Regions from separate parts of the Homo sapiens genome. Here regions 2, 3, 4 and 5 are each reported to be linked to region 1. Evidence: microRNA targets listed by miRTarBase, many of them from high-throughput screens and not tested one by one. Region 1 holds a microRNA gene; each other region holds the end of a gene's coding sequence.
The links. Region 1 holds the annotated microRNA hsa-miR-4284 (GGGCUCACAUCACCCCAU, at 2,019-2,036, shown strand). A microRNA usually pairs through its seed, bases 2 to 8, with sites in the 3' UTR of a target mRNA and lowers its output. Matches are read on the target gene's strand: a 7mer-m8 pairs with bases 2 to 8, a 7mer-A1 pairs with bases 2 to 7 and ends in A, and an 8mer does both.

Region 2: the mRNA of CPT1A is a reported target of hsa-miR-4284. Seed matches in the 3' UTR shown: 7mer-A1 at 2,838-2,844 and 7mer-m8 at 2,473-2,479.
Region 3: miRTarBase lists DENND5B as a target of hsa-miR-4284. Seed matches in the 3' UTR shown: 7mer-m8 at 3,894-3,900 and 7mer-m8 at 4,166-4,172.
Region 4: the mRNA of NXPE2 is a reported target of hsa-miR-4284. The part of its 3' UTR that is shown has no 7-base or 8-base seed match.
Region 5: miRTarBase lists YIPF5 as a target of hsa-miR-4284. Seed matches in the 3' UTR shown: 7mer-m8 at 876-882.

The regions. Positions count from the first base shown.
Region 1 is chr7:73,709,309-73,715,409 of GRCh38, forward strand. MIR4284 (microRNA 4284) reads left to right here and starts at 2,009; the gene lies at 2,009-2,089. All of the region lies in intron 1 of STX1A (syntaxin 1A), which reads right to left.
Region 2 is chr11:68,753,007-68,759,140 of GRCh38, forward strand. It overlaps CPT1A (carnitine palmitoyltransferase 1A), which reads right to left. Exons shown (of 19, transcript NM_001876.4): 19 at 1,877-4,724. The coding sequence ends at 4,638. Among named protein-coding and RNA genes, the nearest start is that of TESMIN, 4.6 kb to the left of the region's middle.
Region 3 is chr12:31,382,602-31,388,735 of GRCh38, reverse strand. It overlaps DENND5B (DENN domain containing 5B), which reads left to right. Exons shown (of 21, transcript NM_144973.4): 21 at 950-6,134. The coding sequence ends at 1,133. Among named protein-coding and RNA genes, the nearest start is that of LINC02387, 16 kb to the right of the region's middle.
Region 4 is chr11:114,705,331-114,711,464 of GRCh38, forward strand. NXPE2 (neurexophilin and PC-esterase domain family member 2) reads left to right here. Exons shown (of 6, transcript NM_182495.6): 5 at 451-666; 6 at 1,065-1,739. The coding sequence ends at 1,600. Among named protein-coding and RNA genes, the nearest start is that of NXPE2, 30 kb to the left of the region's middle.
Region 5 is chr5:144,154,740-144,160,659 of GRCh38, reverse strand. YIPF5 (Yip1 domain family member 5) reads left to right here. Exons shown (of 6, transcript NM_030799.9): 6 at 101-2,498. The coding sequence ends at 263. Among named protein-coding and RNA genes, the nearest start is that of YIPF5, 13 kb to the left of the region's middle.

The sequences.
Region 1 (6,101 bases):
CCGGCACAGAGAGAGGAACCTTGCCTGATACACTGGTGTCAAGGCCAAGTCTCAGCCTCTGGGCCAGGGACTTCCTCCCTCACCTATCTGCCTGCCCCCTCCCTGTGGCTGGGGAGGCAAGCGAGCCTGGGGCCGGCCGCTCTGTCTGGGCCCTCTGGGTCCCCTAGGCCCCTAGGACAGCTGCCTGGAAAGTGCATTCTCTACTCTCCTGGCCCTGTGGTTTACACACACACACACAAACACATACACACATCTGTAGAGTTGAGGTCTTGCTGTGTCACCCAGGCTGGAGTGCAGGGGTGCAATCACAGCTCACTGCAGCCTTAAACACCTGGGCTCAAGCGATCCTCCCAACTCAGCATCCCGAGTAGCTGGAATTATAGGTTTCCACAACCATGCCTGGCTCCAGTGGTTTTAATTCAGGTGGAGCCCAGAGGTCCCAAGCTCCCTTTCCAGAGTGGGCCCTATAAGGGGAGACCTGCCTACTGTGTCCCAGCCCTGGGCACCACTAAACCCCAGTCCCGAGGTGGCACGGATCAGATCTCTTAGGAATCTCCTGTGAGTCTTTTTTTAAAACAGTTTTTAAATTTAATTTTTATTTTTGTAGAGACGGGGGTCTCACTGTGTTACCCAGGCTGGTCTTGAACTCCTGGCCTCAAGCGATCCTCCTGCCTCAGCCTTCCAAAGCACTGGGATTGTAGGTGTGAGCCACTGCACTTGGCCTCCCTGTCGGTCTTGCCATTGGACCTCGGTCTGCCTCCTTCCAGTCCCCAGACCTGGGCCCAGCAGGCACAAGGGGACAGTCATGTTGCCACTTGGCTTGGGTCCTGCCTTAGGCCTCAGCCACAGTTACAAGCCCCACTCCACTGTCCCAGGACCAGCTGTACAAAAGCCACCCCCATCGTGGGGCAGGGGTAATCATACTTCTGACTTCCCAGCATGCTGCGCACAATTATTACTGTCTGCCTCATACCGCCAGTTGGCCAGGGTCAGCCCACGCTGCTGGCAAGGCCAGGTCTCTCTCTGCAGCCAAGGCAAGGATATCCGGGGTGGCCACCCTGGGGCAGGGACTGAGGTCTCTCAGCCTGGGGCTCAGGGCTTGTTCCCACCTCTTTTATTTTTATTTTTTTATTTTTTGAGAGAGTCTCGCACTGTCACCTAGGCTGGAGTGCAGTGGTGTGATCTTGGCTCACTGCAACCTCCACCTCCTGGGTTCAAGCAATTCTCCTGCCTCAGCCTCCCGAGTAGCTGGGATTACAGGTGCATGCCACCATGCCCAGCTAATTTTTGTATTTTTAGTAGAGACAGGTTTCACTATGTTGGCCAGGCCGGTCTCGAACTCCTGACCTCAGGTGATCCACCCGCCTCGGCCTCCCAAAGTACTGGGATTACAGGCGTGAACCACCACATCTGATCTTGTTCCCACCTCATTTCTGAGTGCCTCACGGGAGTGGCCACTGACTAGCTCAGCACTGACCCCACCTCGGTGCTCTCGCGTCAGGACGGAGGCAGGTGGAGGTTGAGGGGCTGAGAGAACTGATGGGACTCATCAGGCTGGGCCTTAACCCCTCTGGCTCTATTTACTCTTCTGTGAAATGGGGACAGTGACACCTGGCTGCATGGAGGGAGGGCTGAGAAAAAGTGGGGAAGCAGGGCAGGTATGTTTGTTTGATTGATGGATGGACTGATTGATTGATTGAGACAGGGTCTCGCTCTGTCACCCAGGCTGGAGTGCAGTGGCACAATCATAACTCCCTGTAGCCTCAACCTCCCGGGCTCAAGCCATCCTTTCACTTCAGCCTCCCAAGCAGCTGGGACTACAGATGCATCAGATGCATGCCACCACACCCAGCTACTTTTTGATTTTTTTTTTTTTTTTGTAGCGACAGGGTCAAACTATGTTGCCCAGTCTGGTCTCAAACTCTTGGGCTCAAGTGATCTTCCCACCTTGGCTTCCCAAAGTGCTGGGAGTATAGGTGTGAGCCGCCACCATGCCCGGCCTGAGCATGTTCTGTGAGGGGCTCACATCACCCCATCAAAGTGGGGACTCATGGGGAGAGGGGGTAGTTAGGAGCTTTGATAGAGGCGGCTCAGAGGGGCCTCCTCTCTTTAAGATATCGTACCACCTCCCCAGCAGCTAAAATAAATCCTCGTTCCCACTCCCCACCGAGTGCCTGGGGCTGTCACCAGGTGGTACCCCCTCCCCCACCAAGCTCCCTACAGACACAGAAAATCCAGGAGCCGTTTTCACGCTTTTAGACCGTGACAGGCCTAGGAGTTGAGTCAGAGGAGCCCTCCCTAGGGAAACTGAGGCAGAGCACTGCCAGGAGGAGCCCAGTTCCTCCTCCTGGGCAGGCTGCCAGGTTGGGAAGTGGCCCCAGGAGCTCCTGCCATTCAGTGTCCTGCCCTCTCTGCCCTGGTGCTCAGAGGATCAGGGTAGATGACAAAGGGTGGATGGAGAATTATCCAGCTCCTTTTCCGTGGCCAGAGACGAGCGTCACTGCCAGCCCCACCGAACCCCTGTCCTGCCCTCAGAGACCCCTGGCACCTGTCTGGTGCCTCTCTTGACCTCAGCTTGCCCATCTGTGTAATGAGGGCAGATCTTCTCCAGGCATCCGGCCAGCTCTGACCTGCTACCTTCCCAGAAGGCTGAAGGCTGGACCAGGAAGCTTCTCTAACAGAAGGGCTGGGAGGAGAGATGCCCGCATCCTCCTCTGGACCCTCCGTCTATGAGGGTAGGGCTGGGGAAAGGGAGATCAGGGCCAGGGTAGATGGGGGCACGCAGGTCAAGTCTACCCTGGAGGTGGCATTGAGATTGGCCCCAAAGCCAGTCGGGGGGCTGAGGGCCTGACCTCTGAGGCATGGTCAAACCAGCCACAGCTCCAAGCAAAACCTAGAGGGGATGGGCGAAGTGGGCCTTTCCTCCCCACGTCCTTCTACTTCTTCGTTCTTGGGAATTTTCACCCCCAGCTCTGCTCTTTATCCTGCTGCCCTCCCCTGGGATCAGACCCCACTCCCCCACACCTACAACTGGTTCCTGGCCCTACAATCCACCCTCTGCCCCCAACTTCCCCCAGGCACATCCCTTTGCCCGGGATGCTGATTCCATGAAGGTGACATTCCCTTCTTCCTCGATGCCACCTCCTTCCAGAAGCCTCCCTGCCCCCCCAAATCAGTATCTCGCACCTTGTTCTTCCACACGCCATTCACATTCCTATTGGAGCCATGGCTGAAAACTCTCAGGCCCTAAGGGACCTGAAAAGTCCCCCTGGCTTCAGCTGCCAGCCTCAGCTTGCAAACCTCCTGTGACAGTGAGCTCACTAGCTTCCCCAGACAGCTCTGCCCATCTCGGGCAGCCCCAACTGTTAGAGTCCTTCTCTTCCCTGTGGTTTGGTTCCAGGCCATAAAGAACCTGTGGGTGCCCTCTCCCTGGGGTACCCCTGCTATAGATTTGAAGGCGGCATCCACATCCTCCCTAGATTTTTCTTTTTAAGTATTCCTTCCCTTTCAGATCCTTCCCAGGGACCCCAAATTACAGCCCCTGCCCAAGAGTTGTTCCACTGTGCCTCTGTCTCCTGTCATACAGCACACAAACTGAATCTGCTGCTGACTGTGGTCTGGGCAATGCCAAAGATCTGGCCCATCCCCTCCCTCTTTCTATATGATCTACCTCTAGTAATACAGCCAGGAATCAGATAAGTGATCATGTAGCATTTCCTGTCAAGAAAAGCCCCAAGCCCTTCCCAACCACTGTCTGTGGAGTGGATTTGGGGTTCGAGTGAAGGACCTTCTTCCTGTTTCATTTCTTCATTTGTTCTGATGCTTATTTCAGTTTGTGGGATTCTGATGGCTCCTGGCTCTGTCGCCCCTGCACCCTCATCCACATCCAAGCTAGAGCCTGGTGGCAGCATTCTAGAGATGTCCTCCAGATTCACTCAGATAAGGAATCAGTTCTCATTGGACACGGAATAAACTGATAAGGACGCGGGATGGCAGAGCCCCACTGCCACCCTCACCTCCTCTGTTTCCCAGCCCAGACACACTCTTGACCAAAATGTAACTAGGTGATGTGGCTACCCTGGCATGCTGTCTTCCTGGTGTCTTGGGCTGGCCAGGGCGGGCACTGTATACATAAAGTGGCCAAGCATGATGGCTCACGCCGGTAATCTCAGCACTTTGGGAGGCCAAGGTGGGAGGATTACTTGAGTCCAGGAGTTTGAGACCAGCCAGGGCAACATAGCAAGACCCCATCTCTATCAAAAGCTACAAAAATTAGCTGGGCGTGGTGCCATGCATCTGTAATTGCAGCTACTCAGGAGGCTGAGGTGGGAGGATTGCTTGAGCCCTGGAGGTCGAGGCTGCAGTGAGCTATGATCGTGCCATTGCACTCCAGCTTAGGTGACAGAGCAAGATCCTGTCTCAAAAAAACAAAAGTGGACACACAGATTTCTGTGGAATAATTAGGGCCCAGCTCCCTTGGGGATCTACCAATGCTTTCTGAGTGGCATTCACAGCTCTGGAGAGGGGGCTGGATTGGAGTTGGGGACTTGGAACCCTTCGCTGTGCAGGTGGCAGCTGGAACTGTGGGGCACAAACTCAAAGGCCCAAGTGTCTTACGGACGGATGTGCCCAGATATCATACGGGCACCTTGCCTGCCTCCTGGCCAAAACCAGGCTCCACCTGTTTTGCCAGAGCCCCATCCTCTGAACTGCCTAGCGCAGAACCCCAAGCCAGAAACCTAGGACATCTGCCATCTTCCTCCTCTTCTCCCATCCAACCAACATCCAATTTGTCCTGGCACTTTTTTTTTTTTTTTTGAGGCAGAGTCTCGCTCTGTTGCCCAGGCTGGAGCGCAGTGGCGCAATCTCGGCTCACCACAACCTCCGCCTCCCAGGTTCAAGCGATTCTCCTGCCTCAGCCTCCCGAGTAGCTGGGATTACAGGCACCCGCACCACACCCGGCTAGTTTTTGTATTTTTAGTAGAGACGGGGTTTCACCATGTTGGCCAGGCTGGTCTTGAATTCCTGACCTCAGGTGATCCACCCGCCTCGGTCTCCCAAAGTGCTAGGATTACAGGCGTAAGCCACCGCGCCCAGCTCTTTTTTTTTTGAAACAGAATCTCGCTTTGTTGTCCAGACTGGAGTGCAGTGGCAAGATCATAGCTCACTGCAGCCTTGATCTCCCAGGCTCAAGCAATCCTCCAGCCTCAGCCTCCAGAGTAGCTGGGACTACAGGTGCCTGCCACCACACCTGGCTAATTTTAAATTTGTGTAGAGATGGTGGTCTCACTATGTTGCTCAGGCTGGTCTCAAACTCCTGAGCTCAAGCAGTCTTCCCGCCTCAGCCTCCCAAGTAGTTGGTACTGCAGGTGTGAGCCCCCAAGCCCAGCTAACATCCTGGTGTTTTTTTGTTCTGCATTCAGCAGTTCTCAAAGCTGGGCGAGCACCAGAATCCTTTGGGGGGGTTAAAAAAAAAAAACAAAAACGGCTTCCAGGGATCCACCCCAAAGAGACTGAATCAGAATTTATAGGGGTAGCCGGGTGCAGTGGCTCATGCCTTAATCCCAGCACTTCGGGAGGCCAAGGTGGGTGGATCACCTGAGGTTAGCAGTTCAAGAACAGCCTGGTCAACATGGCAAAACCCCATCTCTACTAAAAATACAAAAATTAGCCGGGTGTGATGGTGCATGCCTGTAATCCCAGCTACTCGGTAGGATGAGGCAGGAGAATCACTTGAACCTGGGAGGTGGAGGTTGCAGTGAGCCAAGATTATGCCACTGCACTCCAGCCTGGATGACAGAATGAGACTCCGTCTAAAAAAAAAAAAAAAATTGGCTGGGTGTGGTGGCTTACACCTGTAATCCCAGCACTTTGGGAGGCCGAGGCGGGCAGATCACGAGGTCAAGAGATCGAGGCCATCCTGCCCAACATGGTGAAACCCCGTTGCTACTAAAAATACAAAAATTAGCCGGGCATGGTGATGCACACCTGTAGTCTCAGCTACTCAGGAGGCTGAGGAAGGAGAATCACTTGAACCCAGGAGGTGGAGGCTGCAGTGAGCTGAGATGGCACCATTGCACTCCAGCCTGGAGACAGTGCGA
Region 2 (6,134 bases), not on the chromosome of region 1:
CACTCTGGGAGGCCAAGGTGGTCAGATCACTTAAAGTCAGGAGTTCAAGACCAGCCTGACTAACATGGTGAAACCCTGTCTCTACTAAAAATACAAAATTAGCTAGGCATGGTGGTGCACACCTGCAATCCCAGCTATTTGTGAGGCTGAGGCAGGAGAATTGCTTGAACCTGGGAGGCGGAGGTTGCAGTGAGCTGAGATTGCACCATTGTACTTTAGCCTGGGCAAAAAGATTGAAACTCCATCTCAAAAATCAAACAAACAAAAACAACAACAACAAAAAACACTCACAGAAGCAGAAAAAATAATAAAAATAATAAATCGAAGAGCCCAAGAATTATGCATAGCTTGAGTGGCCCAAGCGAGAGAGTAACCCACAAGGTTGCACCGTTCATTCGTTTACTAATCAGAATCAGACGTCTACTGAGTAGCATCATGCCAGGCATACACAGCCACCTGTGGGGGTCACCCACGGGTTGCAATCAAGCCTGGAGGCTCTGCACCTGCTGCTCCTAGATGCTTGCTGCCCTGCTGCACTGGCCGGGCTGGCTCCGTCGAGTCTCTCAGGTCTCAGCTCAACCCACTCTAAGTGGGTCAACCTCCCTGCCAGCTACCACCCCCTCCCAATGATCCTCTTAGTTGCCTCAGAACACTTAAAATCCTTCAACTGGTTGGCTTGTTCTCTTTTTCCTCTGTGATATGGTTTGGCTCTGTGTCCCCACCCAAATCTCATCTTGAATTGTAATCCCTCTGTGTCAAGGGAGGGGCCTGGTGGGAGGTGATTGGATCAAGGAGGCGGTTCCCCTACGCTGTTCTTGCAATAAGAAGTGAGTTCTCACAAGATCTGATGGCTTAAAAGTGTTCGGCAATTCCCCCTCACTCTCTCTCCTCTGCTGCCATGTAACAGGTTTCTTGCTTCCCCTTCACCTTCTGCCATGATTATAAGTTTCCTGAGGCCTCCCCAGCCATGCTGAACTGTGAGTCAATTGACTGTCTTTCCTTTATACTTACCCAGTCTCAAGAAGTTCTTTACAGCAATGTAAAAATGGACTAATGAGACAGCCAGAACCTGGTGGGGTCACTGCTGTCTCCCCAGTGCCTAGAACAGGCGCTGATATGGTTTGGATGTGTGTCCCCACCCAAATCTCAGGTTCAGTGGTAATCCCTAATGTTGGAGGTGGGGCCTGATGGGAAGTGACTGGATCATGGGCGTGCATTTCTCATGAACAGCACCATCCCTCTTGCTACTGTCCTCACCATAGAGTGCGTGAGTTCCTGTGAGATCTGGTTGTTCGCAAGTGTGTAAGAGAGCACCTCCTCTCTCTCTCTCAGATCTGGTTGTTTGCAAATGTGTAAGAGAGCACCTCCTCTCTTTCTCTCTCTGTCTCCTTTCACCATGTAGAATGCCTGCTCCCCCTTTGCCTTCCACCATGAGTAAAAAGCTGTTTGAGGCCTCCCCAGAAGCAGATGCCTCCATGCTTCCTGTATAGCCTGCAGAACTGAGAGCCAATTAAACCTCTTATAAATTACCCAGTCTCAGCTATTTCTTTACAGCAATGTGAGAATGGCCTAATACAGGTGCTCAAGAAAAACAGAAAAATGGAATTCATGCATTACTTTTAACATATTTATTGAGCATCTTTTATGTGTCAGGCACTGTTCTCAGCATTGAGGCAATGGAATGGATGAATAAATGCACAGCAAGTGAAAATCAACAGGCTTTTCTTTCCAGCCCAGCACATGAACTTGGTGATGTCCATGGTCTCCTCCAAGGCCTTGTTTCCATATGCTGAGACTTTCCACTTTGTCTCAAGTATCTGAACTTGGTCCTTGACTTATAATCCCCTTAATATAACAAAAGAGACAGAAACAAATCTTGTAGTAGACTGGGGTTAATGTTTTATTAATGATAACCTACATTCACACTGCATTTCTAAGATTTACATCCAAAGAGCATACTGTATTTACATGCACCGGTCAGCCCAAGATAACAAATTCAAACCATGGCTGCGTTAAGACAATGGTTTGTTCCAATTAAATTAAACAGATAATACTCTTATCACCCCCCTTGGACATGTACAATAAGACCCCTCTTTCTCCCCTCAAGGAATATAAAATTGCATTGATAACTGCACTGATGAGCAACAATTACATTTGAAACATTTAAAACCTGAGAGAGAAACCCAAATATGTTTAAGCACTCACGTCTACACTCAAAATGCCCTGTGAACTCTAGTGTAACACAGATTGCTCAGTGGTCAACAGTGCATGATCTAGCTGGCTCTGATAGGGACTGACGCCGGCTGCTGGCTTTTAACGGGAAGTGCTATTCTTGCCCAGGGCAGAGAGAGCTACATCCCCGCTGCCTGCTTGACGGACAGTCAGGGGCTTTTGTTGTTGGTTTGTTTTTGCTTTTTTTTTTAGACGGAGTCTCGCTCTGTCGCCCAGGCTGGAGTGCAGTGGAGCGATCTCGGCTCACTGCAAGCTCCGCCTCCCGGGTTCACGCCATTCTCCTGCCTCAGCCTCCTGAGTAGCTGGGACTACAGGCGCCCGCCACCACGCCCGGCTCATTTTTTGAATTTTTAGTAGAGACGGGGTTTCACCGTGTTAGCCAGGATGGTCTCCATCTCCTGACCTCGTGATCCGCCCGCCTTGGCCTCCCAAAGTGCTGGGATTACACGCATGAGCCACCGCGCCTGGACGCTTTTTTTTTTTTTTTTGTCTTTTGTTTTCATTTTTTCTTGCTTTCAGGAGAAAAAAAATCTTTGGCCCATAAAGGTGGGATTTTTACATCATGAAGTATACATACATAAAACATGCATGTGGGCCGCGCATGGTGGCTCATGCCTGTAATCCCAGCACTTTGGGAGGCTGAGGCAGGTGGATCACCTGAGGTCAGGAGTTCGAGACCAGCCTGACCAATATGATGAAACCCCGTCTCTACTAAAAATACAAAAATTAGCAGGGCATGGTGTTGGGCGTGTAATCCCAGCTACTTGGGAGGCTGAGACAGGAGAATCGCTTGAACCTGCAAGGCAGATGCTGCAGTGAGCCGAGATTGCACCACTGCACTCCAGCCTGGGCAACAAGAGTGAAACTCCATCTCAAAAAAAAAAAAAAAAAAAAAGGCACGTGTTCTCCGGCAAGCACCTTCCATCGACTCCAACAGTTCAGCCATCGCTGTTGTACTATCGGGGTGCAGCACTCTGAAGGAGTCAGGCCCAACTAGAACCAAGTGGTCAAAAAAATAAATACACAATTTAAAACAATGGACAGCTAAGCTTGTCATGACAGACAGTGGGAATTTCATTCCATGATGCTTCATTTTTGCATTAAATACTGAAGATGACTCAGTGCATAATTGCTTTGTGGTCCATGAGACGCTTTCGTGAAGGCACTCCTATCTGAAGGACAGGCTGGGTGAACACCTAGCACTGTCACTTGAGACATCTTGGCTGGTCACCAAGGTGAGCCGGCATACTGTCTCCATCACCCTCTGGTGAGTCTTTCCCCTCACCGGGTGGGAGGAGAAGGCCATCCCTTGGGGTCGTGGAGCCACTCTCTCCTCACCACGGTGGGCTGCCCTCCCCTTCCTCACTTGCTAGTCCCCGCTTGGTGGCCGATGCCCTGCCCTCCTTGCTGTCACTTTGGGAAAGAGATCCTCCTGAGGCACGTGTCATGTTTTATTCTTGAGTGAATTATCTGACCATCACGGCCCTTGCTCCCCTTTTATGACATGTGCCTGTTATTTCTTTTGTTGCTTATGATGACAAGAAGGCAGTCCCGGGAGGGGAGTCTGGCACAGCTGCCCTTGGGAAGGAACTGGTGTTTCTGAGGGGGAGGGGGCTGGTGGGGTGTAGCAAATGCTTATGTACGGTTATCCATACTCAGTCAATTGTGAAGGGAACAGTATACCCACAATTCCACCCAAAGACTCTACAAAATAAATCTTTCTCTCCATCTCCCTTACATTTAGGGCCTTTCATTTTTAAGGCACTGGGTTGTGAAGACTTGAAGACATACAAGGTCAGTAAAACTGAAGACCTTGCATCCTGCTTGCTTCAAATGTGGAGAGGCAAACACAGGCTACTGGACCAGACGGGAACGGTTACCCACGGTGACAAAAGCAGGTCTCCAAAGCACAGCATTTTGGTTAGTGCATTCCAGATGTGTTAGCTACAACTGGGGACACCAACTTGAATAACACATTTTTCTTTTAACAAAACAAAAGTTTACCCTGCTTGGATGATGCTAAATGCCCTTAAGCACTAGGCCTTCGGTTGCCACTGAGAAAGCACACCATTTCCATTCCACTGTGTGTGAAGCCACAACCCTACTAATTCCTTCATTAACTCAACAAGATTTGCATCCCTTAATAAATCCAAGCCGATGCGGAGACATCAGGGGAGACTTTATCAGATGTCCCCCAAGGGAGGGCAAGTCTGGAAGTAGTGGGGTTATGCTTCACAGGGGAGAGATACTGTTCTAGGAAAAAAAAACACCCACATTTTCTGGAAGGAAAACTGAGTTTTTTTAAGAGCAGTGTTTCATCCCGAGCTAAGGTCAGGATTAATGCCTATTTTTCATTTGGTTTGCATCAGAAGAGCTCGTTTTCCTTCCCAGCAGCTCCAGTGGAATTACTTTTTGGAATTAGAACTGAGACCAAACAAAGTGATGATGTCAGTCATTGCTTCTTTCAGGTGCCTTCCAAAGCGATGAGAATCCTTTCATGTAAAAACAAAAACCAAAAACCTATTAAAACGTGGCCATCCCCACATTTCAAGCTTTTTCATTTGCAATCTGACCCAATGTTTCATTGAAATTCCTTTCTGCCAGTTCTCTAAGATCTGACCAACGTCTTAAAGCTTAACTTAGACATTCCAGAGAAATGCTGAGGGTAAAGAGATGACAGCTGATGTGTTTGTGCGGGTGTGTTGTCGATCTAAGCCTTCCCCTAATGCCAATGCGTTTATCCCACGGAAAACACAATGACCATCCTGAGCATGGTGGCTCATGCCTGTAATCCCAGCACTTTGGAATCGCTTGAGCCCAGGAGTTCAAGACCAGCCTGGGAAACATGGTGAAACCACATTTCTACAAAAAATACAAAAATCAGCCAGGTGTGGTGGCACTCCCCTATAGTCCCAGCTACTCAGGAGGCTGAAGTAGGAGGATCCCCTGAGCCCAGGAGGCTGAAGCTGCAGTGAGCCGAGATCACACCACTGCACTCTAGCCTGGGTGGCAGAGTGAGACCCTGTCTAAAACAAACAAACAAACAAACAACAAAAGAAAACCGCAGTGAACAAATAAACCCCAACTTCCTCTGTTAACAGCGACAGTGGCATGGGTTGCCAGGCTATGTACGACAAGGAAAGCAGAATATAAATAAGGGCAATGTGCCATGCTAGGGAGGAGGTCCCTTGTTCCATCCACAGAGGAAGCCGGGGGTCCCCTGCTCTGTATGCAGATTTCTTAGTGTGTACCCATTATTTTTAGTTCATCTTCCAAGTGCTAAAGAGTCTGAAAGTTACAGCAGCACTCCAACGTTAAGCTTCAAAACCATTGCTGCCAACAGAGGTAAACATGTTAAACCAAATTAGATACATTTCCTTTTTTTTTTTTTTTTTTCTGAGACGGAGTCTCACTCCATCACCCAGGCTGGAGTGCAGTGGCATGATCCTGGCTCACTACAACCTCCACCTCCCGGGTTCAAGCGATTCTCCTACCTCAGCCTCCTGAGTAGCTGGGATTACAGGCGTGTGCCACCACACCAGCTAAGTTTTGTATTTTTAGTAGAGGCGGGGTTTCACCATGTTGGCCAGGATGGTTTCAAACTCCTCACCTCAAGTGATTGGCCAGCCTCAGCCTCCCAAAGTGCTGAGATTATAGGTGTGAGCCACCGTGCCTGGCTGAGATACATTTGTTTAAAACTAGGTAAAGAGAATTTTGAAATTCACTTATGGCTGGGCACAGTGGCTGAAGCCTGTAATCCCAACACTGGGAGGCTGAGGTAAGAGGATCGCGTGAGCCCAGGAGTTCAAGACTTGCCTGGGAAATGTGGGGAGACCCTGTCTGTACAAACAATTTTTTAATTAAAAAAATTTAGGCCAGGCGCGGTGGCTCATGCCTGTAAT
Region 3 (6,134 bases), not on the chromosome of region 1:
GAAAGTGGCACATAGGAGCGATACAATCCATTACTTTTAAAACAGATCTCAGAATTGTAAGAAATGAAACATACAGACCTTTAGATTTCTTTTTTTAAGTTACCCATGTAGTATTTGTTTTTTCCTGAACCTTAAGAGCCCCAACTTGAGACTGAAGATGGCCTGATTGGGGATGCTCAATAAGGATGTCTTAGGAACTTAGCAATGGGTTACTAATGTCAGGTTTGATCAGGAAACATTGAAGATGTGAGGTTTTATCTTCCTGAAACAGCTGGTTTACAGAACTAAGTTCTGTATTTCTTCTTCATAAAAGGAGCCCAGTTTTAGCTGTGCTTTTAAAGTTTCTTTTGAGCATGATCTTTATCTCCTTTTATCTCTATACTCTTCTGATTTATTAGACCATTGCAAACTCTCATCTGGTTTATAAAATCTACTTAATGTTTTTCTGCTTTGATTTTGTTCCTCACCCTGTTATGTTATATAAGTTAAAAAAAAAAAAAAAAAAAAAAGCAAGTCCCTACAGTTTAGTGTAGTCTTTCTTCCAAAAGGTCAGTATACTGTGGCATGCCTTGCCACAGAGTAACACTCCTATTAAAAAAAAAGACATAGAAAATGACATTCTGCCTCTTTCTAAAGGTGGTAAAATCAGAATAGAGAATGTCTTTAATGTGCATAGACTTTCTAATGTACTTTAAACTCTTAAAGTACATTAAATTGGGTTTAAAATAATGGGTTTTCCCTTTAGCTTTCTTTACACTGTCTCATCACTGTCTTTTTACCAGAAAATATTCAACTTCTTGGCTTTGATTTCCTCTCTCCTGACCTCTTAGCTTGGATACATTTTGTACCATCAAGTCCCACACCTTCCCATTCATACAGACTCCACTGTGTGCCTTGTTCTGCAGCGAGGCCAGCAATGCTCAGGAATTGTTTCTGTTTGGGTCTGTAGGGATCGCCTGCTCCCACAGTGGATTCCATTGTTAGCTGAGTGTCCTGCCATCACTCGAATGTATGAAGAGAGCGCTCTCCTGCGAGACCGCATGACTGTCAACTCCCTTATCCGAATTCTGCAGACCATTCAGGACTTCACCATAGTCCTAGAAGGATCACTCATCAAAGGAGTGGATGTGTAACCCAACTGGCTAGAAACTCTCAGTCCAAACCTTGCTCCTTCCCCAACTAGGGGACCGATTTGGACTTGTCTGACAGTAGTGAGTCACTGCAGGGGCAGCCAAACATATGCCCCATTTGGAACAATCCTCACTCTACAGACAAGGCAAAATGTTGTATTGTAGTTCATTTGAACCTGGAATTTAGTATAAAATAGAGTATTTTCATGTGTTAGATGTGTGTAAATATGCTATCTTCTTTAAGAAATTATATTACTCTAATAAGATGCTTTTCTTAGATTGAATATTCCTGTGACTTAAAATAAGTAGCTTAAAAATGTTGGGGGTTGGGGGGAAGAGTGGTGCTAGCCAGGAAGAAGCCAGTAAACATGTAAATATAGTGCAACCCAGTCGGGCTTTTTTTTTTCTCCAGGTATCACAAAGAAACCCAGAATGCATTGTTATGTAGTAGCCATCCATCTTGGAGTCTGATCCTTTGTATTGTGGATGCACACAGCTTTACCTACTGTACTGGTAGTCTTCACTTCTATCTTTTAAGTTACAAACTGTTTTATATATTTGAATCGCTAGTCACTTTTCCAGTCTTTTGGAAAAAAATTTCAGTCCGCACAAGATGATATAATTGGAGTATTTTAAACACTAGACCCCAGGAGCTTGGCTGAACTGGAAAGAGAACATACAAAGCTCTGAGAAATGTGTTCAATTGTGGGATTATAACTTCTTTACACTTCGGAAAGATTAGCCTAGACTAACTTCATTCTTGGCATTTTTATTCTTGTTATTTGAGGTACTTTGGGAAGATGTGAATTTCAGTGTTAGATTCATAGTGATAAGAACTGCAAACAGCAATTTGATTCTGTACTTTTAATTTGGCCATCTAAACTGTGCAGTGGTCTACCTCTTAAGGATAACCATGAGCCCTGTCTTTGTTAGGGTCTAATCACCCACCTCTCCAGGGCCCATCCCCCCTCGGGAAATGGAAGGAATGTCTAAGGAGGAGGAGGGCTGTGTGTGGCTTGGAATGTTTTTGTGAAAGCATTTGTTGACCATGATAATGCAAATAACAGAAGGAGAGAGAGAATGAACCCTTTCTGGGTGTTTCAGGGCAAGCTTTACGTTCCTTTGTAGGAAGGGGAGTAATAATGTAAAACAACTGACCCAGAGAAGCTAAAAGCCACTGGCAGCACAGGCTGACAAAATGGAAGCAAAGCAAGAGGTGGCAACAATTTTGAAAGACCAAAAGTTGTGAGTAACTTTCCAGTTTGATAGTTTATAAAGAAGTTAAGTAAATGTAGTATTGGCTAGTTACTGTAAGTCCTCATCTTCTGGTAGGTCCTGTAACTCTAATTAGGCATTTGTACATTTTTAGCAGCAAAATTGCCTCAGCAGAGCTCCCAGTTTTATTCCCAGTTGTGGCTGAAAAGCAAAGCCATGGCATCAGTATCCTTGTGCAATCGGAGGTTGCTGGGCTTTCACCACCTGTGTTGTTAACCTTATTTCCTGGAGGAAGAAACAGATGAAACAAGTGCCTAACTCCCTTTATCAAACACAGCCAAGGACAGCCTCTTTTAACATGTGACTTCATACTTGAGGAAAAGGAGAGTTGACAGCTGTATTTAAAAACCCATGGAGCCGGGTGCGGTGGCTCACGCCTATGATCCCAGCACTTTGGGAGGCCGAGGCAGGCGGATCACAAGGTCAGGAGATTGAGACCCTCCTGGCTAACACCGTGAAACCCCGTCTCTACTAAAAATACAAAAAATTAGCCGGGCGTGGTGGCGGGTGCCTGTACAGGAGGCTGAGGCAGGAGAATGGCGTGAACCCGCGAGGCGGAGCTTGCAGTAAGCTGAGATCGCGCCACTGCCCTCCAGCCTGGGCAACAGAGCAAGACTCCATCTCAAAAAATAAATAGATAAAAATAAAAACCCATGGAAATGGTTTAAGAAAATGGTTCTGGGTACACCAGAAATTTGTTTGCCTGAAGCTAAAGTGTGTCTACAATGGTACAGCTCTTCCAGGGACATGGGAAGTTTATCGTGGGAGATATCCAGAACCTGTTTTACACTGGGCTCCTACTGTGTTTGGTGATCAGAAACTATAGAGGGGTCCAACCCAGGATTTCATGTTTGTATCTTCATAAGGCCATGCTCCTGACAGGTCTAGGCAACCTGGGGGATGACTTAGGTTAATGTGCTAGGATTGACACACCTCATCCAGCCTTCTTACTTTGTGGATGGGAACACTTAAGGAATAGAGAGATTAAATCTTACACTTACCCCACAGCTGGTTACTGACAACACAAGCTCTAGAATTCATGTTTGTTTGTTTGTTTTATTTCACCAGGCTGCATGAGACTGACCTTCCGGCATTCTTACTAATAGTCTTTCTATTATACTATTGGATCTTTATTCATCCACCTATACAAGTAGGAAATAAGGATGAATATTCATTTAGAAGAATTAATATTCATATTAACACATTGCTCTCAGATTATTGGGAATTAACATCTTGTAAAAACTGGGAGCAGGCCAGGTACGGTGGCTAACGCCTGTAATCCTGACACTTTGGGAGTCTGAGGCGGGTGGTTCATCTGAGGTCAGTCGGGAGTTCAAGACCAGACTGGCCAACATGGTGAAACCCCGTCTCTACTAAAAAAAAAAAATAGACAAAAATTAGCGGGGGGGTGGTGGCAGGGCCTGTAATTCCAGCTACTCAGGAGGCTGAAGCAGGAGAATCGTTTAAACACAGGAGGTGGAGGTTGCAGTGAGCCGAGATTGTGCCACTGCACTCCAACCTGGGTGACAAGAGCGAGACTCCGTCTCAAAAAAAAAAAAAGAAAAAAACTGCAGCCAAAGTTGGATTTGCGGCCTATGAATAAAACCATTACTTTAAAAAGTAATACCCCCAAAAAAGTTACACCTGAAGTTTCATCTTCATGCCTTTGTGTAATATTACTATAATGGTGAAATGATGATTTAAAAAAAACACATCAGAACTGACACATCCTCTTGGATGATGGGTCCTTCAGTCACCTTGTGAGCCCATGTACTTATTCCGTTGATACAGCCTGTGCTATAAACATGTGGGGCCCTCCTTGTGTGAGCTGCTTGAATGGCCAGTACCCCCATTCTTTTGAATATTCCCAATGGCAGTCAATCTTGGCCTTTAAGAATAAATTTAAATATTTGGAAATAGTCCTTAGGATCCAAGTTTGATCAATGAAAAGGATGCTTAAGCTGAGTTTGGGGTCACATAAGAAGTGCAGTTATAAAGAAATAAGACATGTTGGGCATGGCAGTACACACCTGTAGTCCCAGCTGCTTGGGAAGCCAAGGCAGGAGGATCACTTCAACCCAGGAGTTTGAGTCCAGCCTGGGTAACATAGGGAAACCCCATCTCAAAAAAACAAAACAAAGGACTTAGTTTTTATGTGGCTCATAAGTGTCTCTAAGTTATACCAAAAGTTTGAGCACAACAGTAGTAGCAGAATGCTTAGAATAAATGCTTGACTTTTAAGCTGACTTTTGGAAGGACCATACCCACATAGAGGCATCTTTTCTGCTGTGGTAATTTTTTAAATTAATACATTGCTTTAGGATTACATCTCAAAGTAAATAAAAAAATCAATATTTAATTTGTTTTTTTCCTGCAAATAAATTAAATGCTGGGACCATAATGATTATTTTTGCATAGTAATAGCTGGTGAAGAAGTTGTTTTAAAATTAAATTGCCAAAAGTATTACCTCTTGAAAAATTTATTTTCCCAAAGTTTTTCATATGTCATGAAACCCCTAATCTTGACCTTTATGACACAGTGGCATTACACTGATGTTGGAAGCATGTGTGAGATCTGTGCCCTGGTCGGGAGTCATATGCCTTAAAAATGACTGCGAGTCAGTGTGAAGTAGTATAAAGTGGAGTCCTACGTGGGAAAAAGCAGGCTACTGAGGACAAAAACCTCCCAACCCTCCCCACCTTGTTTTCCACTGGGAATGAGAATTTGATATGAGAAACTTCAACCTTGCAGAAGTGTGGATTTCCCTCTGAAATTTAAATGTTTCACACATTTTTGTACCTTTTGTAACCTTGTGGTATTTACTTTCACATGGCTTTTTAAAAAATTATTTTAATGAACTTCTATCACACTATATGAATGATATGGGGGAAATACTGAACTGCTCATATTTCCTTTTTTGGCAATAAAGCACTGTTATATGTAAATGTAAGTGAAAAAGAGGTTCAAGACTATACAACAGCTTATGTGTAGTATATGTTGACATCCCTAAGGTATTTTGAAACATGAGGTGACAGACAAGGACCTCAAATTTCCAGGGAAATATTTATTTCACAACATTAGGAGTGTAGCTCTTCATAATGAAATATCTTCTTTCTGCTAAAGATTACAATTTTTCATTTAGGGAACTGTGAATATTTTCTGTGAGGTTTACAGAAACTAGTGTATCCTTTTCACTATGTTGAAAAGACAATCTGAACTTTAGCTATTTATATTTCAGTATTAACACACCTTCACTGATTGAGAGTCTTGAGCCCTTCTCTACTTTTATAAAGTGAATCCTATTTCCAAGTCATCCATGTCTTTTGAAGTCTGTTTCTTATATAAGTATTTATTACTTTACTGTTTAGCATAAATAGGAGACAGAAAAGGATAATAAACTACTAGGTCCTTTATTCCTATTAAAATAAATTTATAAATCCCTTGAATCAACTGAATTCTAAGCTTTTTGAAGAGGTTGCTGATGTAGTGTGATCAAAAGAATCTAAGGAGAACCTCCTCTCCAAAATCTGATTGGAGCTGTTCACCCTCTCAAGGACAAGATAAAGATTGACTTCAGAGATATATCACATCAAGCTAGAGGAAAAAAAAAAAACCTCAAATAAAATTTTTCCTCATTCGAAGGGATCCAGGGTATCCTTGGGTTATGTAGGAGGGAATCATATTTGTTCTAATTTACCTGAATGTACTTGTGTGTGAATCCAATCTTG
Region 4 (6,134 bases), not on the chromosome of region 1:
ACTCATTTCATAAACACATTCAAGCTTCTTTTCCTGGATTAGTAGTTTGAGGAAGATGAGATTTACAATTCAGCGAGGCCAATGTCATTGGTGTAATATTTGGCAGGGCCACTGTGCCCTGCTATTTCACGGCCACACATTTCCTCCTGACTCTGGCTGGCTGTTCCACAGCAGCGTGGCTCTGGGGACAAGGTGGAGCCCAGGGACACATTGCAAATGCACAAGAGTCAACAGATCCCCACTCCAAGAAAAACTATTCAAGAAAAGCTATTTAATTCACCCTTTTAACATGATCTTATTAAATAAATATTTGTGGAAGAGAGGAAGGCAAAATAGAGCTGAAGAGAAAGGGGGAGGAAAAAGAGGAAAAGGAAGGCAAAAATGAGAAACATTTTTCCAAAATAATTTGTGGTAATAAAAATTACTTAATCTGGAAATTTGTATTGCCAGAGAGCGAGAACATAAAAAAGAACTGCCAGATTGGAATGAAGACTCCTTTCCCCAGTGGTTATACTTTGAAAAAAATGTGGATTACAGCATTTTGTAAACAGATCAAGTTCAATGAAACAAAAAATATAAATGACTGCTTGGAAAGAAAACTTATTTATCTCATGGGAGATTCAACACTGCATCAGTGGATTTACTACTTACAAAAAGCTGTGAAAAGTATGTATTTAATTTATATTTTGAAATTCTATTTGACTTTTGAGGGTTTTGAAATAATAATTAGAATTATTTGCTTTTCTTTTCTAATATTTATTTTATTTTATTTTATTTTATTTTATTTTAAATTTGCCTAACTTTTGGCTTTGGGCTTTTAATAAAAAGTTAAATTTTATCTTTTCATTCACAAATGTTAATATTTTTCTTCCTCTTCATGTATTCTCATAACAAGTTCAATATTTTGTTAAGATTGTAATGCACCTGGTAAAATTATCCACCTTACATAGGCAATAGTGCTTAGTTAGAAGTGATCTTGGTTAGAATTTTATACATGTTGTGTGCAGTTTAAAGTTATATCATTTTCCTTTTGTTAAAATATTTATTGATTTGTCTTTCATCAGCCCTAAAATATTTTGATCATCATGGAGCTGGGATCTTTAAAACACATGTTCTTCTGGATGTTGAAAGACATATTTTGATTCAGTGGAAAAAACATGGTCATCCATTTGTTACCAAAAAATTATTCTCAGTGAAAGATGAAAACTATATCCCACGGGAAATTGACCAGGTAGCAGGAGACAAAAACACAGCCATTGTCATTACCCTCGGCCAACACTTCAGACCCTTTCCCATCAACATTTTCATCCGTAGGGCCATCAATATTCAAAAGGCCATTGAACGTCTATTCTTGCGAAGCCCGGAGACCAAGGTGATACTTAAAACTGAAAACACCAGAGAGATAGAACAAAATGCAGAGATGTTCAGTGACTTTCATGGCTATATTCAGAATCTTATCATAAGAGATATTTTTGTGGATCTTAATGTGGGTATTATTGATGCCTGGGACATGACGATTGCATATTGCACCAACAATGCCCATCCACCGGATTATGTGATTCAAAATCAGATTGGCATGTTCTTAAACTACATTTGTTAGAGGAAAAATACAAAAATAGCACTAGCCACTTTCTATAGATGATCTCACATATACAGCGAAGATAGTTTAATGCAATCCAAGTTTTGAGGAAACTAAATTTGAAAAAGTTCTATTAAAGTTAAATATATGTAACATAACATTTACCATTTAAGCCATTTTATTATTTTATTTTATTTTTGAGATAGAGTTTTGCTCCTGTTGCCCAGACTGGAGTGCAGTGATGTGATCTTGGGTTACTGCAACCTCCACCTCCAAGGTTCAAGTGATTCTCCTGCCTCAGCCTCCCAAGTAGCTGGGATTACAGGTGCCCACCACCATGCCAAGCTGATTTTTGTATTTTTTAGTAGAGATGGGGTTTCACTATCTGGTTGGCCAGGCTGGTCTCGAACTCCTGACCTTAGGTGATCTGCCCACCTCGGCCTCCCAAAGTGCTGGGATTACAGGCATGAACCACCATGCCCGGCATTATTTTATTTTATTTTTCGAGACAGTCTCACTCTGTCACCAAGACTGGAGTGCAGTGGCATGATCTCAGCTCATTGCAACCTCTGCCTCCCGGGTTCAAGCGATTCTCCTGACTCAGCCTCCCACGTAGCTGGGATCACCAGTGTGCAGCGCCACACCTGGCTATAAACCATTTTTAAGCGTACAATTCAGTGATATTAAGTAATTTACAATGTTGTGAAACCCTCATCATGATCCATCTCTGGCACATTTTTAACATTCCAAAAAGAAACTTGGTACCTATTAAACAATAACTCCCCATTCGCTCCTGTCCTTGGCCCATGGCAACCGCCATTGTATTTTCTGTCCTTCTGAATTTGACTATTTTAGGTAGCTCATATAAGTGGGAACATGCAGCATTTGTCCTTTTCTGTCTGGCGTATTTCACTTAGCATATGTCTTTAAGGTTCATCCATATTGTAGCATTTGTCAGAATTTTCCTTCATTTTTAAGACTGAATAATATTCCGTTGTAAGTATGTACTACATTTTGTTTATCCATTCATTTGTTGATCGACATTTGGGTTGTTTCCCCTTTTGGCTACTGTAAATAGTGCTTCTAGGAAGAGAAAACCAAATTTAAAGGCATGTCTCCAGTGCTGAGCATGATGATTGAATAGCAAATCATCATCACCCATAATTTGAAGACATGTGCAGCCCAGAAATGCATAGATTAAATGATTCAAGTTTAGAGAAAATGTGATGTATACAGGAAAACTTAGTGGGATCATAATAGCAGTCTTCTTGCTTAGGAAAATTATTTGGAACTTAGTAACCAGTTGTTCTCTAGATTCCAGTAAGAATCATGGATCACACTTCAAAACCCACAGGCTCATTGAGAGAAAACAACTTAGTATTATGTTAACGTACAGACCCCAAAACCTTGATTCTTGGATATCCTAAAATATGATTTGGGATCCCCTCCAGAGGGCCTCAAATGACAAATTTTGTCTCTAAATCTTCCTCTCATTAGAAAGATATACACCCTTTCTATTAATATACTCTAGGTCTCAAGAGTAGGAATATTGTTATTAAGGATACTTCCCCTCTTAGGACTGTGTTTCTTAGTTAGAGGAAGTGAAGTTATAATGCTGTAACATCAGTACAAAGTTTGGGTCGTCAGGAGGTGGAGGTTGCAGTGAGCCAAGATTGCACCACCACACTCCAGCCTGGGTGACAGAGCGAGACTCCATCTCAAAAAAAAAAAGAAAAGAAAAGAAAAGAAAAGAAAAGCCTAGGTCATAAGTCTGGGTCATACACTTTAGCACCAGACTTCTCTAAATAGGGAACTCACGTTAGAAATTTCTTCCTTGTATCAAGCTACTTATTGGTTCTAATTCCTCCTTTAGGAAACTTTGAAAGTAAATTTAATTATTCTTCCAACCATTGCAATGTTAATTGCTTAAATGAGTTATCGTTTTCCCATGAAGACCATCTCAAATTCCTTCAACCTGGTTCTGACATGATAGTTTCTAGTTTTCTTACCTTCTCTTCACATGCACTGAAGTTTGTCTATATCACTCTACAACTCACTCTACAATGTGCCTTCTCCCTCATCTCTCACCTCAACAAATTGAATGTTTTAATTTAAATGTGATCCATTAGCCCCTATAAAAGAGGGTCTATTATTTCTCTTGTTCTAGAATTGCACTGTACAACACAGTAGCCATTAGTTGCATAGGGCTATTTAAATTTAAATTAAATTAAGTAAAAAATTAGTTCCTCAGTTGCACTATTCACATTTCAAGTGTTCAATAGCCACATGGAGCTAGTGGTACTATACAGATAGCACAACATGTGCTTGCATTCTTCTCTAGAAAGTATTTTTTAATGTTTTGTCATTGTAATTGGTTGCATTTTTAAAAGCAAATTCCATAATGCGTTATCATTTTTCGTGGTGAGTAAAAAACAAAAAAAATCACCAAATGTTGGTAAGTGTCAAGTCTCTGACTTTTAAGCCATTTACTTCTTGTTTATTTTTTAAAGAAATTCTGGTATCTAAATATTTCATAATGTTTTGGCTTAAGGTGATAGCTTCAGGTTATTGCAGATAATGACTATATTGCTAATATACAAGACTTGAGCAAGCCATTTGAAATCATAGAAATGTTCTCTATTGCTATTATCAAACCTCTTTCAAAAACCCATTTATGCACAATGGAATAAAACAAAACTAGAAATCAATATCAGATGCTGGGTGTGGTGGCTAGTGCCTATAATTCCAGCACTTTGGGAGCCAAGGCGGGCGGATCATGAGGTCAGGAGTTTGAGACCAGCTTGGCCAACATGGTGAAACCCTGTCTCTACTAATCATACAAAATAGCTGGGCATGGGGGCACATGTCTGTAGTCCCAGCTACTCGGGAGGCTGAGGCAGGAGAATCGCTTGAACCCGGGAGGCGGAGGTTGCAGTGAGCCAAGATCATGCCATTTCATTCCAGCCTGGGTGACAGAGCGAGACTCTGTCTCAAAAAACAAAAAAGAAAAAAAAAAAGAAATCGATAGCCGAAAGAAAATAGGAAAATCCATAAATATTTAGAAATTAAACATTGCACTATTAAACAGCCTATGGGTCAAAGAAGAACACACGAGGGATTTAGGAAATACCTGGAGACAAGTGAAAACAAAAATACAACACACTAAAACTTATGGGATGCAGTAAAAGTGGCAATAACAGGGAAGTTCATAGCAATAAATGCTTACATGAAAAAAGAAAAATGTTTGCAAATCAACAGCCTAACTCTGCCCTTCAAGGAACTAGAAAAAGAAGAACAAACCAAGTCCAAAGTCAGCAGAAGGAAGGGAATAATAAAGATTAGAACAGAGATAAAGGAAATAAAGTAAACATAAACCATAGAAAAGATCAAAAAAACTAAGAGTTGGTTTTTCAAAAAGATCAAAAATTTAACAAATTCATAGCTAGACTAAGAAAAATAGAGAAGACTCAAATAGCTAAAATTATAAATGGGCAATGAGACATTAAAATGGATGTCACAGAAATAAAAATGATTTTGAGAGACTACTATGAACAATTGTACGCTAACAAATTGTATAACCTAGAAGAAACTGATAAATTCATAGAAACATACAACCTACGAAGACTGAATCATAAAGAAATAAGAAATTTGAACAGACCTATAACTGAGAGGACATTGAAACAGTAATCAAAAACCTTTCAGTAATAACGACAACAATAAAAAGCCTAGGCCCAGATGGCTTCAGTGGAGAATTCTACTAAACATTTAAAGAAGAATTAACACCAATCCTCAAACTCTCCCAAAGAATAAGAGGAAGGAATGCCCCAAACTCATTCTATGAGGCAAGTATTACCCTGACACCAAGACAAAGACAAGAAAAGAAAACTACAGGCTGATATCCCTGATAAGCATAGATGCAAAAACCCTAAAAAGAAGGAATACTAGTAAACCAAATTCAATAGCTCATTAAAAGCATCATATACCATGACCAAATGGCAATTATACCTGGAATACAAGGATGGCTCAACATATGAAAATCAGTCAATGTAATGTGCCACATTAACAAAATAAGGAACAAAAACTACATGATCATCTCAATTGATGCAGAAAAAGCATTTGACAAAATTTAACATCCTTTCATGATAAAAACAATCAATAAACTATGAATAGAGGGAAACTATCTCAACACGATAAAAGCCATACACGAAAAGCCCACAGTTAATACCATATGCAACTAGGAACTACTGTTTTTCCTCTATGATCAGGAACAAAGCAAAGATGCCCATCCTTACCACTACTATTCAACATAGTACTGAAATTTCCAGCCAGAGCAATTAAGACAAAACAAAACAAAAAAATTTTGTTATATATAGCATATGACAAAAAAAAGAAAAGACACACAATTGGAAAAGCAGAAGTAAATTCTCTCTGTTCACAGATGACATGATCTTATATTTAGAAAATCTTAAAGATTCTGCACAGAAACTATTAGAACTAGGAAATGGATTCAGCAAAGTTTCAGCACACAAAACCAACACTCAAAAATCAGTTGCAT
Region 5 (5,920 bases), not on the chromosome of region 1:
TAAATTTAAAATGCTTTAGAATAGGTTATTGTAGTATTCTTACATAACTAATCTCATCTGCTTTTTTTTCTTCTCCCCCCTTTTTCCTTGTTGTTTACAGAGGAATGGTAGGAATCATTCTCACTGCTGGGATTATTGGATGGTGTAGTTTTTCTGCTTCCAAAATATTTATTTCTGCATTAGCCATGGAAGGACAGCAACTTTTAGTAGCATATCCTTGCGCTTTGTTATATGGAGTCTTTGCCCTGATTTCCGTCTTTTGAAAATTTATCTGGGATGTGGACATCAGTGGGCCAGATGTACAAAAAGGACCTTGAACTCTTAAATTGGACCAGCAAACTGCTGCAGCGCAACTCTCATGCAGATTTACATTTGACTGTTGGAGCAATGAAAGTAAACGTGTATCTCTTGTTCATTTTTATAGAACTTTTGCATACTATATTGGATTTACCTGCGGTGTGACTAGCTTTAAATGTTTGTGTTTATACAGATAAGAAATGCTATTTCTTTCTGGTTCCTGCAGCCATTGAAAAACCTTTTTCCTTGCAAATTATAATGTTTTTGATAGATTTTTATCAACTGTGGGAAACCAAACACAAAGCTGATAACCTTTCTTAAAAACGACCCAGTCACAGTAAAGAAGACACAAGACGGCCGGGCGTGGTAGCTCACGCCTGTAATCCCAGCACTTTGGGAGGCCGAGGCGGGCGGATCACAAGGGCAGGAGATCGAGACCATCCTGGTTAACACGGTGAAACCCCGACTCTACTAAAACTACAAAAAAAATTAGCTGGGCGTGGTGGCGGGCGCCTGTAGTCCCAGCTACTCAGGAGGCTGAGGCAGGAGAAGTGTGAACCCAGGAGGCGGAGCTTGCAGTGAGCCGAGATCACACCACTGCACTCCATCCAGCCTGGGTGACAGGGTGAGACTCTGTCTCAAAAAAAAAAAAAAAAGGAGACACAAGACTTACTGCAAAAATATTTTTCCAAGGATTTAGGAAAGAAAAATTGCCTTGTATTCTCAAGTCAGGTAACTCAAAGCAAAAAAGTGATCCAAATGTAGAGTATGAGTTTGCACTCCAAAAATTTGACATTACTGTAAATTATCTCATGGAATTTTTGCTAAAATTCAGAGATACGGGAAGTTCACAATCTACCTTATTGTAGACATGAAATGCGAACACTTACTTACATATTAATGTTAACTCAACCTTAGGGACCTGGAATGGTTGCATTAATGCTATAATCGTTGGATCGCCACATTTCCCAAAAATAATAAAAAAATCACTAACCTTTTTTAAGGAAAATATTTAAAGTTTTACAAAATTCAATATTGCAATTATCAATGTAAAGTACATTTGAATGCTTATTAAAACTTTCCCAATTAATTTTAACTGTGTTATTGAATTTACTTTTACTAAACTACTGTTCTCTTTGTCTCTTTTTTAACTAGGCTCTGATTTTGACCCCTAATTTAAGCTTTAAGAATAGAAATCAGCTAATATAGAATCAGACAAAAAGGGGATTAAATGAGCAGTTTGAGTTACATTATTTTATTGTATTAAATTTATTTGATTTATATTGTCATGTTCTCTTGCCAGAGAGAATCTGTAGGAAAATACTGTATCTTGTATACTGATCATTGGCTTTTTCTAGAAAAACTGTCTCTGATTCTGGACAAAGCTCAGTTATAGTTACGAGAAAGATATGGTACAGGGAGGAAAATACTGCCTTTTTTTTTTTTTTAAAGAGATTTTCAGACTAAATAGAAATGTCAAAATGATGTATCAATGGTTCTTTTTTAGAACAAGTTTTCAAAGCATAAAAAGAGGTTGAGAGAAATAACATATTTATTGATTCACATAAGTATGTTTTTCTTCATTAATCGTCTGGAGAAACCCACTTGTCATTAATTTGTTTTGGGCTAGGTTTTCAAACTTACCAAATTGCTTTAAAAAAGCAATTTGGAAGGTAATTTGATAGGCTTTCCAACTTAACCAAATTTTTTATTGTAATTCTTGGATAGTATTTTTGTCTTTTTCAATTCATTTGTCTTTTTCAGTATAGTTTTTGTTAAGGCAAATGTCTTCCCTTAATATCCAAATATTGCTAATAAACGGTAGAAGATGCTTTGGAAATTAAAATTATCTCGCTGTTGGTTAGACTTAACACTGTTAATCTTCAGCCAAATATCACATATGGATCAAATTATTTTCTTTTTTGTTGTTTACCCTATCCTCAACAACATTTTTAGTTTAAATTATTGTAGAGATTTTTTTTGTGGTGGTTATTTTTTATTTTGCTCCAAAATAATAAGGTGCAAAGCTATTTTATGCTTAACTGTTGCTCTGTCAAAACAGCTATGCAGTGGAGTTGCATTTGATGTTCTAGAGTTTGATTACATGCAGAGTTGTATATAGCCAAAACTTCTCTTATCAAACTCTGTTATGTAGGCATATTTATATATACATTAAAGACTGTTGTACTGTGTCTCAAAAAGTACTATGTGGCGCTTTTTTTTTGTCTATCATTGGAATAGATTGGTTTCTTCAGTTAAGTACCAGGTAGATTACCTGCCTTGCTTTAGGCCCATTTTATACTAAAAGCATGCAGGTATCTTTAAACACTAGAGACACCATAGCTAAAAGCTCATCCAGTGATTGTCATTGAGTAACTGAAACTCATCGTGGGGGTAACAGACTGAAACACGCCTTATCTCCAAATACTGTACTTGTGAGTGGAGTGGCAAATTGACTTAACACTAGTGTGTTACTCATACATGTATACATGCCAAGATCATGTAGTTGACTTTACATATGGAGTAAATGTATATTTTATAGCATTGCTATAATACTGTGTTTACCAATGGGTATTTTCAAGAGCTGTATAACTAGGCTTATGGAAATAGACATTCTTTTTCCAGTTATAGTTAGGCAGATTATGCAAAGTTCTAGAAATCTTAAGATACTATCCTTGGATAGTGGCCACCTAATCAAAGAGAGTTTTTTAAAATGTATCTAATGACATGATTTGGGATAGAATTTAGCATTGTACATTTGGTATTTTGCAAATTTGTATTTTTAACCTTAATAGGCATTGCTAAACTCAAATATGCTCCAAAGCTAAGTCAGTTGTCTCTAAAGTTAAAATTATGCAATTATGCTTGCAGTACTTACTACCTACAGAAAAAGGGAGCCTTTCTGATGTGAACTATACACTAGTTTTCTTTCACATAAATGGAAGAATTTTAAACTTTGGGTAAAGGGAAATTGTACAAGTTAAAATATTATTCTGTAGAGATGCTCTATATCATGAAGAGTTATGGGAAATCAAGGCTACATTTGCCATGCTGTTATATAAAGCAGATCTGATGTAGTTACTCAGACAAGTTGTTTCTCTTTCTTTGTGGGAAGAAAACAAAAAAAAAGTTGTATATAGCAAGTATTTAGCCTTTCATAAAGTAGTATGGAAAGTTTTCAAAACAATATAGCAGCTCTCATGGTACAGATTGTACAATGAAGCATACTTACCAAAGACTAGCCCTGGGCCTTCCTTCAAAATACTACCTAGAGCAAGCCTCCTACCCAAACAATTCCTCATGTTAAAGCTGCCCTCACATGCTATCCACTGACTCATTTTGTGACATGTCAAATTTCAACTGTTATTTAGTAGCAAAAACATACTGCAGATGAGTTAATGAGAGTGTCTCTTTATCTTTTTAGAGTGTATTTAGGATTTATCGGAAGCAGTGTGCCAGTAACAAGGTTTCAAGGTTGTTGGAAACGCCTTAAGGAAGAATTGCTTTATGTGCTTTAATGAATACATAAGAATGATGTCATTACCCTGCCAAGCATACAGTGTTTGTTTTTATACAGTCTGAATAAAACCTAGCCTCCCCACTCTCTACAATCTAGGCTATCATTACTTTGCACCCCTAATGAAGAAAGAATTAACTTTTTAAAAAATTAACTCTGCTTCTCCACCATCCAAATTATTGAAGTTTGAATTGTAGTACATTACTAATACTTGAATTTCAGTAAGTTAATTTGTTCATTAATAATTAAATATCCATTTTGTAACTGGGCAATAGGTAAAATGAAACATTAAATATTTAAATTGTCAATTTCTATGGATTGGTAGAGTACTTAAACTTATGTTATTATTAACAAATATGTATCTTAGGATGGTGACCATCAAAACCAAAGAATGCAGTTTGATAGTATGCAGTTCTGATTTTGCATCACAGGTGGAAATATTTCTGCTGCCCTTGAGCACAAAGTTCCTACTCTGGTTAATGAAGAACATTATCTGCTGATGGAGCACAATGTCCTGTGTTTGTGTAAATAAATTAAAATGATTACATACTCAAATGAGGACTAATTAAATAGAGAGCTGTTCTAATTTAAAAGCACAAATACTTTCTTGAGCACATTAGGTTCCAAAAATCGGATATTACATTTTTTTGTGAGCTTAACTAATTAGGCTTACCTTGCATGTATGAATTTGGTTTATTTCTGCAACTAGCACTAAATCTGCTGATTGCTTGCAGAGTGATTAATTATGCATTAAGGTGTTTTCAATAGCTTATCAGCACTTGTGGCACACACATGAATAAAGAAAAAAATGAGAAAACAAATAAGTACTCAGCAGAAACATTTAACATGCTTGTAAATTATACTTTTAATCTAGTTGGATGACTTTTATTTTCCTACAAACAGAAAAAATAGTTATTTTCTATTTTCCTAGTTAGAATATAACGCAAAGGAGTGTCTGTAAAATTTAATGACACGTTTGCTTTCAGTTATCAGTTTCATGGTCTGATAATATTGGAGAACTTGGTAGTCTTTAGGCAATGAATGGCACTAAAAGCCTTTTTGTTTTCTGTGTTTTAATTTTTAGTTTTCTAAATGTATAATCTTTATTTCCTTTTCTAGGTACACTGTCATCTTGATAATACCTTCACACAGCAATAAAAAGCAGATTATTGATAATCTATTTCAAAATGGATGACCCTCAGAAATATGCCAAGTAAAAGAAAAAGCCAAATACAAAAGGCCACATATCATATGATTCCATTTATATGAATATCTAGAAAAGGCCAATCTATAAAGACAAAGCAGATAAATAGTTACCAGGAGGTGGTAGTGGAGACTGACGGCAAATGAGGCAGGAGGGAACTTTTTGAGTGGTGATGGCTGCACAACTGTATGTTTACTAACTAAATTTTAAGTGTATACTAAAATAGGTGGATTTTGTGGTATGTAAATTATATGTTAATAAACTTTTTAAAAAACATGGAAAGGGGAATGGGAGGCAGAGCAACCACCAGAACATCTATGTTTCTAGAGTTCAAGAGAAGGGTTTTAGGATAGATTTTAATAAAGACAAAAATATATATAGTACCTTTTCCCAGAAGAATATTAATACTGAACAAGTGAAATTGCCCCTCTATCCCCAAATTTCATTCCCCACATAACTGCCTTTAAATAGATTAGCATACATTTTATCAGACTATACACACAGGTACCCAATTCTTCCTAGTGACTTGTGTACACATTAATACATACATGCACTTACCTTTTAAGTTTGTTTTTATTGAATTGAAATTCAATAAAATATATATAACATATAACAAAATTTACCATTTTAACCATTTTAAAGTGTACAATTCAATGTTTTTTAGCATATTCACAATGTTGTACAATCATCACCCACCACTATTTTCAGAATATTTCTATCACCCCCCACTGCCCGCAAAAATTCCCTTTATCTCTCAATTTTCCCCTTCATACCCTGGCGACTACTAATCTTTTTTCTGTCTCTGGATCTGCTTATTCTGGACATCTCATAGAAATGGAAGCATGCACTATGTGGCCTTTTGTTTCTGGCACCTTTGAGTTTACATAATGTTTTCAAAGTCT